Regions from separate parts of the Homo sapiens genome. Here region 1 is linked to region 2. The links come from fine-mapping of genetic effects on gene expression. A gene starts in region 2. The other region holds a variant in brackets. All regions are shown on one strand. Distances are from middle to middle. Region 1 has its middle 5.4 kb from the start of PRICKLE2-AS1. Region 2 holds the start of PSMD6-AS2 (PSMD6 antisense RNA 2).

What was found. PIP is the estimated chance that this variant, and not a neighbour inherited with it, causes the effect. A credible set is the group of variants that fine-mapping cannot tell apart.
Region 1: its variant is the best candidate, but not a certain one, in a credible set for the expression of PSMD6-AS2 in adrenal gland (GTEx, PIP 0.70).

The regions. Positions count from the first base shown.
Region 1 is chr3:64,059,842-64,065,227 of GRCh38, reverse strand. No RefSeq gene overlaps it. Among named protein-coding and RNA genes, the nearest start is that of PRICKLE2-AS1, 5.4 kb to the left of the region's middle. RefSeq lists enhancers at 1,115-1,938, 789-1,988. The variant A/G (reference allele first, on the strand shown) is at 2,607.
Region 2 is chr3:64,001,950-64,007,317 of GRCh38, reverse strand. It overlaps PSMD6-AS2 (PSMD6 antisense RNA 2), which reads right to left and starts at 3,296. Exons shown (of 3, transcript NR_038286.1): 1 at 1,250-3,296. ATXN7 (ataxin 7) reads right to left here. Exons shown (of 13, transcript NM_001377405.1): 13 at 3,856-5,368.

The DNA.
Region 1 (5,386 bases), 58 kb before region 2:
CCAGCCAACTGTCTTTGGACTCTGACTGCAACTCTTCCCTGGGTCTCTAGCCTGTGGCCAGTCCTGTAGATTTTAAACTTAACCAAGCCTTCACAACTGCACGAGTCAATTCCTTGATCAACCCATCTCTCTATCTATCTATTTATCTGTACTTCCTGTTGGTTCTGTTTCTGTGGAGAACCCGGACTAATACCCCATGGATTATTATGCACCTATGAGTTGGCTCTATACCTAGGAACCTGGAGGGATTTATATGATGCATTATTAAATGGAAGAAGCAAGATGTGGAGATACATGTTGTAAGAGAAGCAGTGGCCAAAAATGTGCTTGTTTCTATTGGCATAGAGAAAGATAGGAAAGAAAACATGACAAGTTTTAACAGTGGTTATCTGGAAGGGGTGTAGGGAGGTAAAAAGAAACAATTGAAATACAAAAATATTAATCAGATAATGCTGATGAAAATTGTAGAATATTAAATCCTCCGATATTATTAAAAGTAAGAAAGTACTAAATATACCTATGGGGGGGGATTAGAAGTTAAAAATGGAAAAAAATTTTAAATTGATATGCTTTGGGATTGGGATTTGGGGACACTCTTTTTCTTGGATATCTGATACTTCAATATTATAATAATTAAAATATATGTATTCCTGGGTATGACCCCAACAATTCAGATTTTGTAAGGTGAGCAGGGGTCTGGGAGTGTGAGAATTAGTACTTTTTAAATAAAGGCCCCCAGAGTAATTCTTGATGCATCACTGAGTTTGGGAACTGCTAATTCAATAATTATTCTTTCAAGCTAGGACACACTTGATTTTTCCCTGGAAACAATTAGTGAAGGAGGGCCATCAGTGTGAACAGGAGAGAAGTCCCAGAGCCTTGCTTAGCCCCATAGCTGAGTGGCCTGCCCCTGAGTCCCCCCTACACCCCTGAAAAGGTCTGATGATCTGGCCTTCCTGAGGGACAGGGAAACAGGGGTGGTCAGACCGCAGGTGCAGGCCATTCTCTGCTCCCACAACTCCACAGTCATATCCATTCACTTGCCATTGCTCTTTCAACTGCCAACTTTTGTTTTAGAAATGCAGACATTTATATGGCACTGTATAGTGACTTCATGTATCTTATCTCATTGGATCCTCCCTCGTTCCTGACAAGGTGGATAGAGAGCTGTTGTTGCTATTGTCTCTGTCTACAAGTGGTGACAATGAGTCTTGGAAACTAGTTAGATGACCTCTTTTGACCCAACTATTTCATGGAAGAGATAGAACCTCGAACCCCAAGTCTGCCTTTCAAATTTCTTTTTTCCCATTCCACCCACCACATGGCCTTCTCACCTTATTTAAATTGTTTGCTGAAGGACATCCTCTTTCACATTCCTTAAATATCCAGCCTTTAATCTTCGATGATTAGATGTGAAAAACATTTTCTTATGATTGACATAGGATTTGACGCATGCTGTTTTATCTTTGTGTTTGCTTTCTTTGTTAGCTGTTTCGCATCTGCTTTTGTTAGTCATTCCATGTGGGGGGTTAACTTTATACTGTATTCATCACAGATAATTCAGGGTAGAGTTTTACAAACATGTTTGGGACAATGCAAACTGAAATTGGCAAGATGTACTTTCCCCCTAAGTAGAAACTATTGTTCCCTTGACGGGATGGTTTGTCTTTTTCATTCCAAGGACACTTGAACAATGAGTTTGAAAGCTGCTTCCCAGGAGGCAGAACAAACAACACCACACCTGAGAATTAAAGCAGAAAAGCATCTTGAAATATGTGATAAGAGTGTAGTCCTCCAGTTAAGGAAAACTTTCCTAGTTTTAAAAAATATGCAACATGGAGTAGAGTCAGGTCCACAGGCAGCAGCAGGAGCATATCATCACTGCTAGCAGAATGCTCTGGTAACTGGATTTTTGTTCCTGATAAAATGAGAAGGTCTGTTTTTTGATCATGGAAACATTTTTCCAAAAGAAACCCAAATATATTTTCAAAGTATTTCCCAAGTGTCAGCAACTATTAAGTAGAAAACACTCATTAGTTAACAGACTAGAGGAAAAAAGGGGCTTCAAGTCAGGGCACTCACTGGTCAATTTTGAAGATCCACAGTGTTTTGATTAAGAGCCAATGAATTATGCAATAGGTTTATTATCCAAGGTAGAATCAAGAAGTTGAAAAATTCCTGTATGAACTGCGAGGACAACTGATTTAGTGAGCAATCTGTCTGAGAACCAAATTCCTTCTGCTTAGCTCAAAGTGCACTTGACTCTGACCTTTAGTTCATGGAGGGTCGTTGTGGAGACTGATACTGAGTTTCATTAATGCATCAGTCTCAGCTAGTCTCAGTAAGTATCCTTTCTTATCATCCTGGAACTTCAACATCCTGGTGGGATGTGTTTCCTTAGTAACTTGGGGAACTAGAGCCACCCCACTTCCTTTCCTCTCTCCTAAAAATCAAAAGCCTTGATTTTCTGCCTTGATCGTTTTTTTTTTTTTTAATGCCACATCCAAGAAAAAAGTTGAAGAAAACATCAGCATGGCATAGGCTGGTGTCATTTGCGAAAGAGCTGGTGACCTAGAGATAGGGCTGGAGGCCATTCTAGAGGCGAA[A/G]TAAAGCCTATCTTGTTGTCAAGAGGATGGAATAGCCTTGTCTTAGTAAGAAGTGAGATGCCACAGTATTATATGAGAGAGAGAGAGAGTGCAGAAAGGGCTTTTATTCATCTGATCCATAGTGATTGTTCCTTTAGCCTCTTATCTTCCCACTGCTTACTGGCATCAACCACTTGAATTAAGTAATCCAGACGCCTGGCCAGCCCACCTCTTTGAAGGGCACTGAAAAAGATCCCAGCTTCATTTCTGTATTATCTTCATAAGGCAGACAGGGAGATACCCTCTTGCCATTTCCTTTAGATTAGTAAAAAGAGCCCTCTGAATCCGAGGGTTTCTGCCCAAGTGAACAATGGACCACCCTAAAAAGGAGGGAAACGAAGGTCTTTGGAGTTATATCAAAATAGAACTGACTAAAATTAAAATTCCAAGGCAAACAGTTTTGCTATCAAACAAGTTGTCATAAATGTTTCATCACTGACTTTCCCAAAGCTCTGGCATTAAACATTAATACACAAACAACTGAAATGTGCCCACTTTTAGCATGGGCTCTAGTCTTCCTCTTTCCTCCTCCAATCAGGAATAAATAAAAGGCAGCATCAGGTTTTGCGTTAGTGTTTGTCAAATGCTTTGAAGTATGTGATAATGCCGTAATAACGCCATGGGTGGCAATGGTATTCTTTTGCCCATTATGCAGATGAAGTTAGTGAGCCAAAAAGAGTCTTAAAGTATTTGCTCACAGTTGCTCCAACAGCATTCAAAGAACTGGCATTTGCACCTCTTCCTTTTCTCAGACTGGTCAGTTACATTATGGTTCATCCAAATTTTGGGGAACTGTTGCAGCTGTTTTTTAAAAACGAGATGCCTCCATGGTGCACTAATGCAAGGAAATTGCCACAATACTGAGCAAATATTGTGAAGCCGCAAGTATGTGTGTTCATGTACATGTGATGAATAGAGAGAGTTCTGGAACTGTGCACACACACAGTTGGTGACAGTGTTTACTTCCATGGTGGTGTGTATGATGGGGGTGGACTGCCTTCATTATTTACTTCATATACTCATGTATTATTTAACTTTTTAATGACAAGGGTATGCTATGTTTGTCATAAACTTTCCCTTTACTCAAGATATATAACCGAAACATCCTTCCTATCTCAAATCTTTTTGCTCTCTCCAATTCTGCAGACCTGTGAGAAGCAAGAAGAATATTGTTATTCTCCATATTCAAATTAATCCATGACAATAAACACTGATGCATATAACCAGTGCCCCATAATATACCAACCACACTTACTGTCATGAGAGGCAGTCCATGAACTTAAAACAAGGAACTAACAAACACTGTCTCCTTTGTAGGTGCCAGACACTTTCCCATGTTAGCCAATTTGAGCCACTCACTACCTGTGCAGAGGAGGAGTAGTTAGCTCTGGTTCTATAGACGATAAATCCAGAACTCAGAGTAACAATAACATGCCCATGTTCACACACAAATACATGGCAGAGCTGCACTAGTGCCTGTTCCACACCACGATGCCTCCTGGAAGTCAACTTGGTAAAATCATTTTTCAGTGAAACATAAGATTCAGGATAATGATTTTTGGGGTTTTTATTTCTGTTTTTATGAGACCATTGAGTTTCATTCCTCTTGGCAATAATCTATATGACCTTAGCTTATCACAATAAAGAAGCCCCATGGGAGGAAAAGAGGGGCCATTGGTTAGTGTGATTTTGTTCAATATAAATCATCAATTTTATGAGCTAAATATAATTTTTGATAGCACAGACATTTTGAATTAGAATTGATGATTGAGGCTTTGACAGCATCTCAAGCTACCTCTTAACCCCATAATGTCCATTCATACATTATTGACTCCCATGGTCCTTTCCCTTTGTCCAGCCCACCTCTCAATGCAGGGACATGAAGGCTCCCATCTTGCGAGCATCAGATAGGTTGCAACTCATGAAGCATCTTTGTTCCCAGATAGTACTGTACTTTCCCTCCACCCTCAAGGGTCACAGTAACAAACGTCAACTGGGAAAAGAAATCCATTTAGTTTTTATTAAGCTGCTTGACTTTTCCAGGGGTCTTTAACTTCCATCTTGGTTAAATGGTAACTGGACACTGAAGAAATAGCCTCAACTCTCTCAAGTAAGTCCAAAGGTTTGTTAAGGACCAGAAAAAATTAAAAATCCCAGAAGGGAAGGTCACCAAAATATTAACAGTGCTTCTGTGAAGTGACAAGATTGAAGTTCTTTTTTTAGTTCTTGCTTTACACTTTTCTGTTTTTTTCCAGATTTTCTACAACAAACATGTATTCACGTTTTAATCACAATAAAATGTTATATATTTTTTTAATTCTGAAAAGCATGATGTGAGAAGCTTTACATGCAGTATTATCCTAGTTCTGTAACCATGTGCTTACAAAATTACTGGGGAGAAATAAGCCAAAATGTTTACAATGTCTGTTCCTAAGTGAAGGCATTATGGTTGATTTTTTTCTTTATATTTTTATGTGTGTTTCAAATTCTCTCTAAAGAGCCTACAGAGGATTTATAACCTTAAATAATGAATGTATTTTTAAAGCCTTGAAATTTGAGGAGGAGTGTGAGAAGGGGAGATTCTATGAAATTCCACAATGTTGTTACTATTCCTGTAGTAATGACATATGCCCTTAATTCCTGGAATAGCTGAGATTTCTCCAAAATGCCTAATTTATACTTGGAGAATAATATATCCATCTTTTAGGATCTGGGCCCCAAATACTCTAATTTCTCCTAAA
Region 2 (5,368 bases):
TTTCCCTGTACAAATTGGGTTTAAGAAACAAAAGGGACAATTTGCTAATCAATGATGAGCCTTTAATCCAACCATTATATATCCCCTTTCCATCCTTAGATCCCTTGAAGAGACCATTTAGTTAAGACTACCAACAGGTGACACCCTGACCTCCTTACCAACCTTGCCTTTTAGAGGTGACCAGAGACCTGTGCTTTTCCAAAGTACTGTTATACGTGTAATTAGTATAATATCAATGTGGGGAAACTCTACCTTTGGATTTTGAGGACTCTGCTTTTCTTGAAACCCTCTGGGTTAGAGACTGTTTATTCATATGCACCTCAGGAACTTGAGGCCAAGATGAAGTTCACTGTTTCCTAGTCCTTTGCTTGTTCTCCTGGCCATTATGTTTCCACCTTCATTCAAAATGCCTTCTCTTTGAAGCTGCTTATAACCCAGCAACACCATCAACTCACTGTGCTCACTGTCCTCAATCACACATCTCCAAGTCACTCTCCCCTCTTCCATGCAAATCATCCCAGAACCAAGCAACCCTAATTTGAAATGGACAACCTATACAACACCCTTGGCTTCACAGTTCCTCAGCCTGAATTCCAGTGCTCTTTTCCTCCATGCTGCTTCTGTCCACTGCCATGGTTTCCACCCAGGAATCACAAGCACCTCTGGCCAGTTCTGCTTTTGAAAATAATACTGGAATTCCAATTCCTCTGGCCAGTTCTGCTTTTGAAAGTAATACTGGAATTCCAATTCCTCCATTCCCTGTCCTATTCCTAAAAGTGCTGTATCACTTTGATAACTCTGGCCCCTGGATCTCACCTTGTAGCCCCTCACTTTTATTGGCCATGTGGAATTAAATGTGGACTTTGCTCTGTGACCCTGAACAAATCAATTGTCTAATCATAGAAAAAGTTACCTGGAAGGAGATTCCTAAGACCTAACAAGAAGATAATTCCAGTCAAACCAATGTCTTAAGAGCACCTGCATAGATTCTACATGGTTGGCTTCTAGTTCTCTTCCCTGAATACCCAGTTCAGACCATCATCAATCACTCAGCCACATCTTCACTCTTTGGCAATCTCCCTGCTCAAGTTCTATCTTTTCCACCCAACCAATACATGCTGTTCCAATTATCCTGGAGAAAACAGCAGGGCAATAAAACGTTAACTAAATAGGTAGATAGCATTGGTAATTATAATGGGATTGACTCAAAACATCTAACCCTGTAAACCATCTCAATGCCTTCCCTTACCTCTCTTTTTACTCTACTGCTCCTTCTCCATTTGTCTTCATGAAAATAGTCTTCTCCAAGGTTTTGTCCTGGGTTTTCTCTCTGGGCCATGGAGGATGGGCTTCAGGTTTGTGATATCCTGGAAGCGGAATATAAAAATGTGGTGTGCCTGTGCCTCGGTCAGACAGGATGCATAACTTCATGTGACTCCTGGAGTCTGAGGAGGGAAAAAATTAAGAATCACTGTTCTGACAGACCTGAATTACCCTGGATCTGCCACCTATTCGTTGTGGGACCTTAAGCAAGATACCTTCTTAGGAGTTCCAATCAGTATGATTGGAATCAAAATACCTGCCCTATGAGGGCTTAGTAAAAGAGAGGATGTATATAAAATGCTTGGCACAGTATCTGGCATATTAAGTACTTCACTAGAGAAGTATTATTTTAACATAATAATAAGCCAAATCGAATAGCTACTTAATTTTCCCAGGTAAACTCCATCTACCCTTATGACCTCACTGATGATCTAAAACTGAAAGACAACTCTCCATCTTTATTTTCCAGCTCAAACCTCCCTCCTAAAGTCCAACCAGCCTGTACAGCCAGCTGGGCACTAAACCAGAATTTCCCACCAGCAGCTCAAATCTATCGTTATGTCTTTTTCCTTCTCTGTTACCATATCGCACATTTCACTTAAAGCTCAATTGGTTTGGCCAAGCTAGAAACCTGAAGTCTTCTTAGACTCACTCTTCCCTTTAATGTTGAACAGAGTTAGACCTCAAGGCTTGTTGGTTCTACTTTTTAAAGATTTCTGAAATCAGTATCACTTATCCTCACAGTCAGCCTTCGTTTGGAAACTTAATAGCTCTTACCTGGATTACAACAGCTTTGTAACTTATTTTTGTCCCAAGGTTCTCACCTGTTGATTCTGTCTTCCATTGTTATTGGAGGGCCATAGGTGGCAGAGATGTTTTTTCCACAAAGTATTAAATTATAAGTGATTCTCCCCTTCCCCCTGGAGACTTTTTCTTTGGCTGATAGCCTCACTCTCCCTTACCTCCTAAGAGATATTCTGGTCCATGGTCTTTGGATGTAGAAAATGAGGATAACAAGTGCCAAGAATTACAGCCTTACAAGGTGAAATACTACTTTAATTAACTTCCATTAACAACAGGAGCAAGAACTTCTTACAGAAAGAGGAGACTAAGAAAGGAGTGAGAAGGGAGAGGAACTTAAGAGTTGATTTAGGGGAGTGCTTTTTGTTAGGACTGGGGACAGGGGCAGGTAAAGACAGATCTTTGAAGCAAAAGAGAGTGAGAATGCAAGACATGGGGAAAGAGACTTAAGTGCTCCTTTGCTTTTCCACAGTTTTCAGTACAGATTTGAATGGCTTTGACTTTTGGCAGCTGCACAGTGCTAGGACTGGACCATGAAATATCTCTGGGCTCTGACAATTACATTTGGGTTAATCTAAGCCTGATCCCATGTGTTCCTGGAAGAGAAGCCCCATGACATTCAAAGTCCTTGACAATCTGACACCAGCTTTTCTAACCCTATAAGGCCCTTCCATCCAGCAAACTTCCTGCAGAATTATTCTCTATCCCTCACATGTTCATACCCATGCTCGACGCATTTGCTCTCTCTGCCTAGAATCTTACTCTTGTCTGCCTTTCTGCCTGGTTAAATCCCACATACGCCAAGATCCAACACTGCTAAACCCCTTTCCTTGAGTTGGGATCATCTTGTTATGCAGGGCCGGGATACCTGCAAGGGAATGGAATTAAAAAGGTTAAGAGATTGAGCAGTTGAACCTTTTCTTGGGAGGTTTGAGGACAAGCCATAGTGAAAGGATTTACCTACAGAGAGCACCTCATTATTAGATTTGTGGAAAGTACTGAGTGGATGGTTGACTCAAGTAAGGAGGGAATGGGAAGTCCACAGGGCAGTAGGAACTGAAGCCAACATGACTCTTTCATATCAGGTATGGACATTCTTGCTAACACACAGCGGTTCCTCCTCTTATTTTAAGCAACAAAAATAATTTATCAGAATGGTTTATTTGCAAACAGTAAAAATGTCTGGATTTCTAGAGGTAAATGATTATGCTGTGTTCCAAATAATACTAAAATGCACTTGTATTGCCAGTAAGGGAGGTATGTAAAAGAAAGGAAGAGATTAGACCGGGTCTGGATAAAAAGCTTATCTTAAACCAAAACTACATGTCATCAAATTTGCACCTAAGTACAAATAGAATGTGTTTCTCAATCCATCAACTCCCTCGTTTCTTTCACAAACATGCAAGGCCAGAATACAGTAATGTTCACTGTTTACACAGTTACTAATTTATCCAAAGCAAAGCTTTGTGCCCCCAGATGGAAACATCCCCAGGCCTTAGAAGTATTTAGCTTATATAAGAGGAAGGCTAAATTGAAGGGGCTTCACAAGGGTGTTCCATGCCAAAAGTGATGAAAAGTCAGAGTAGACTGAAAGGGTTTAGTATCACAACGAGGCAGAAACGTACAATATTTCATGCAGCCAACCTTATTTATTGAGAAGTCCTAATTTTATTGCCCGTTTAGTAACATGTTTGTTCCACAAGCTAATTTCTTATAAAGCAAAGCACAACCTTTTCTTATAAATAGTATAAATTATTTTATTTACAGAAACTTGTTACAAAACAAATAGACTATATATTTCTTCTCTTTTAAATATCCAAAGTAATTTTCTATCCCTTGACATTTGTTCATGTTCTATACAGCAGCCAACACAAAGTCCAGCTGAGATGCTCTTGATTATGTGTACAAATTATCAAACTATTCACACGTTTTTAACACAGGAGATTGCTTTTATAACCAAGCTCAAAAAAAAAAAAAAAAAAAAAAAAGCAAAATGCTTTCAAGGCCCTACATTCACACTGACAGTATGTAGTGCTCATTTAAATTATCTGAAAATGTAAAATGTTTTGCACAAAATGTAAAAGTGATTATTTTCTGCTAAACAAACTTTTAAGAATATTTTTTCAAAGCCCAATCGCCCCAAACCCCCTGGACAGAATGAGCGACATTAAGAAATTCCTTGGCAACAGAACTCTTGCAGGAAGACAGCTGCCCTTATAAGTTACATTTTTCAAATTATACATTTTTTTCAATGTTCTCAGAGGTACTTCTTTGTATTATATTTTTGGAATACAAAATATTTTAAATATTTTAAATTGTATTTCATGAGTGAATAACAAAACGGACACATCGTGTAAGTTGCTGGCTGACAAAAAGATCTGTAACCCTTGGTGCCACCAGGCAATCCATCACCAATTGAATTACTATGAACCAAGAGGTCTTAATTTTAAAATACCTTATAAAATTACCAGCATTGGTGGTTTTCAACTCCGCCCCTAAAATTTTAGAAACAATATTTAGGTGGAAAAAGCAAACTCCAAAAGTTCAACTGAACATTCAAGTCTTTTTAAAGAGATTCTGTCTAAGCTTAAAACTAGTTTCAGGCACTTTCAGTTTTTTCCATTAGTTTTAAACCACATCACATAGTAACATACATGTGCTGAGTATACACACACACGCACAGGCACACACACACGCAGTCACATACTCCCACACATAAAATACTAACAAAAGAAAAGCAGTGTGTCACTTAGTTACATGTAGTCTATCGGGAAACCAGGCAACCAGGAAGAAGCAATGCCCACTTCATCTGTATGAATCCACTCCCGAGACACTAAAAGGGACAAAGACTTTTCACAGAACAGAGGCATCCCTTAAAACTGTAAAGGAGGCAGGTTCTAGAACTATTGGCTTGGCAGTGAACCACTTCAAATTATAAAAAGGTATTTACTTTTATTAATTAATAAATAAATACTAGATGATCTCAATTGTACCAAAACAGGATATCAGAAAAAAAGACCTGTGCAAAAATACATATTTAAATATGTACAATTCATTTTTAACAAAATATGTCTTCTGAAATAGGGATACTTCCATATTTATAATAGAACAAGAAATTCCAAAATAAAGATACAAAAGTAGGTTTTGTATAATTCTTTGTTCATCATTGCAGCACTTTTTTTTTTTTTTTGTAGGTTAAGAAAACTGCAGGAGTTGTCATGAAATTCTATTGGAAAGAATATAA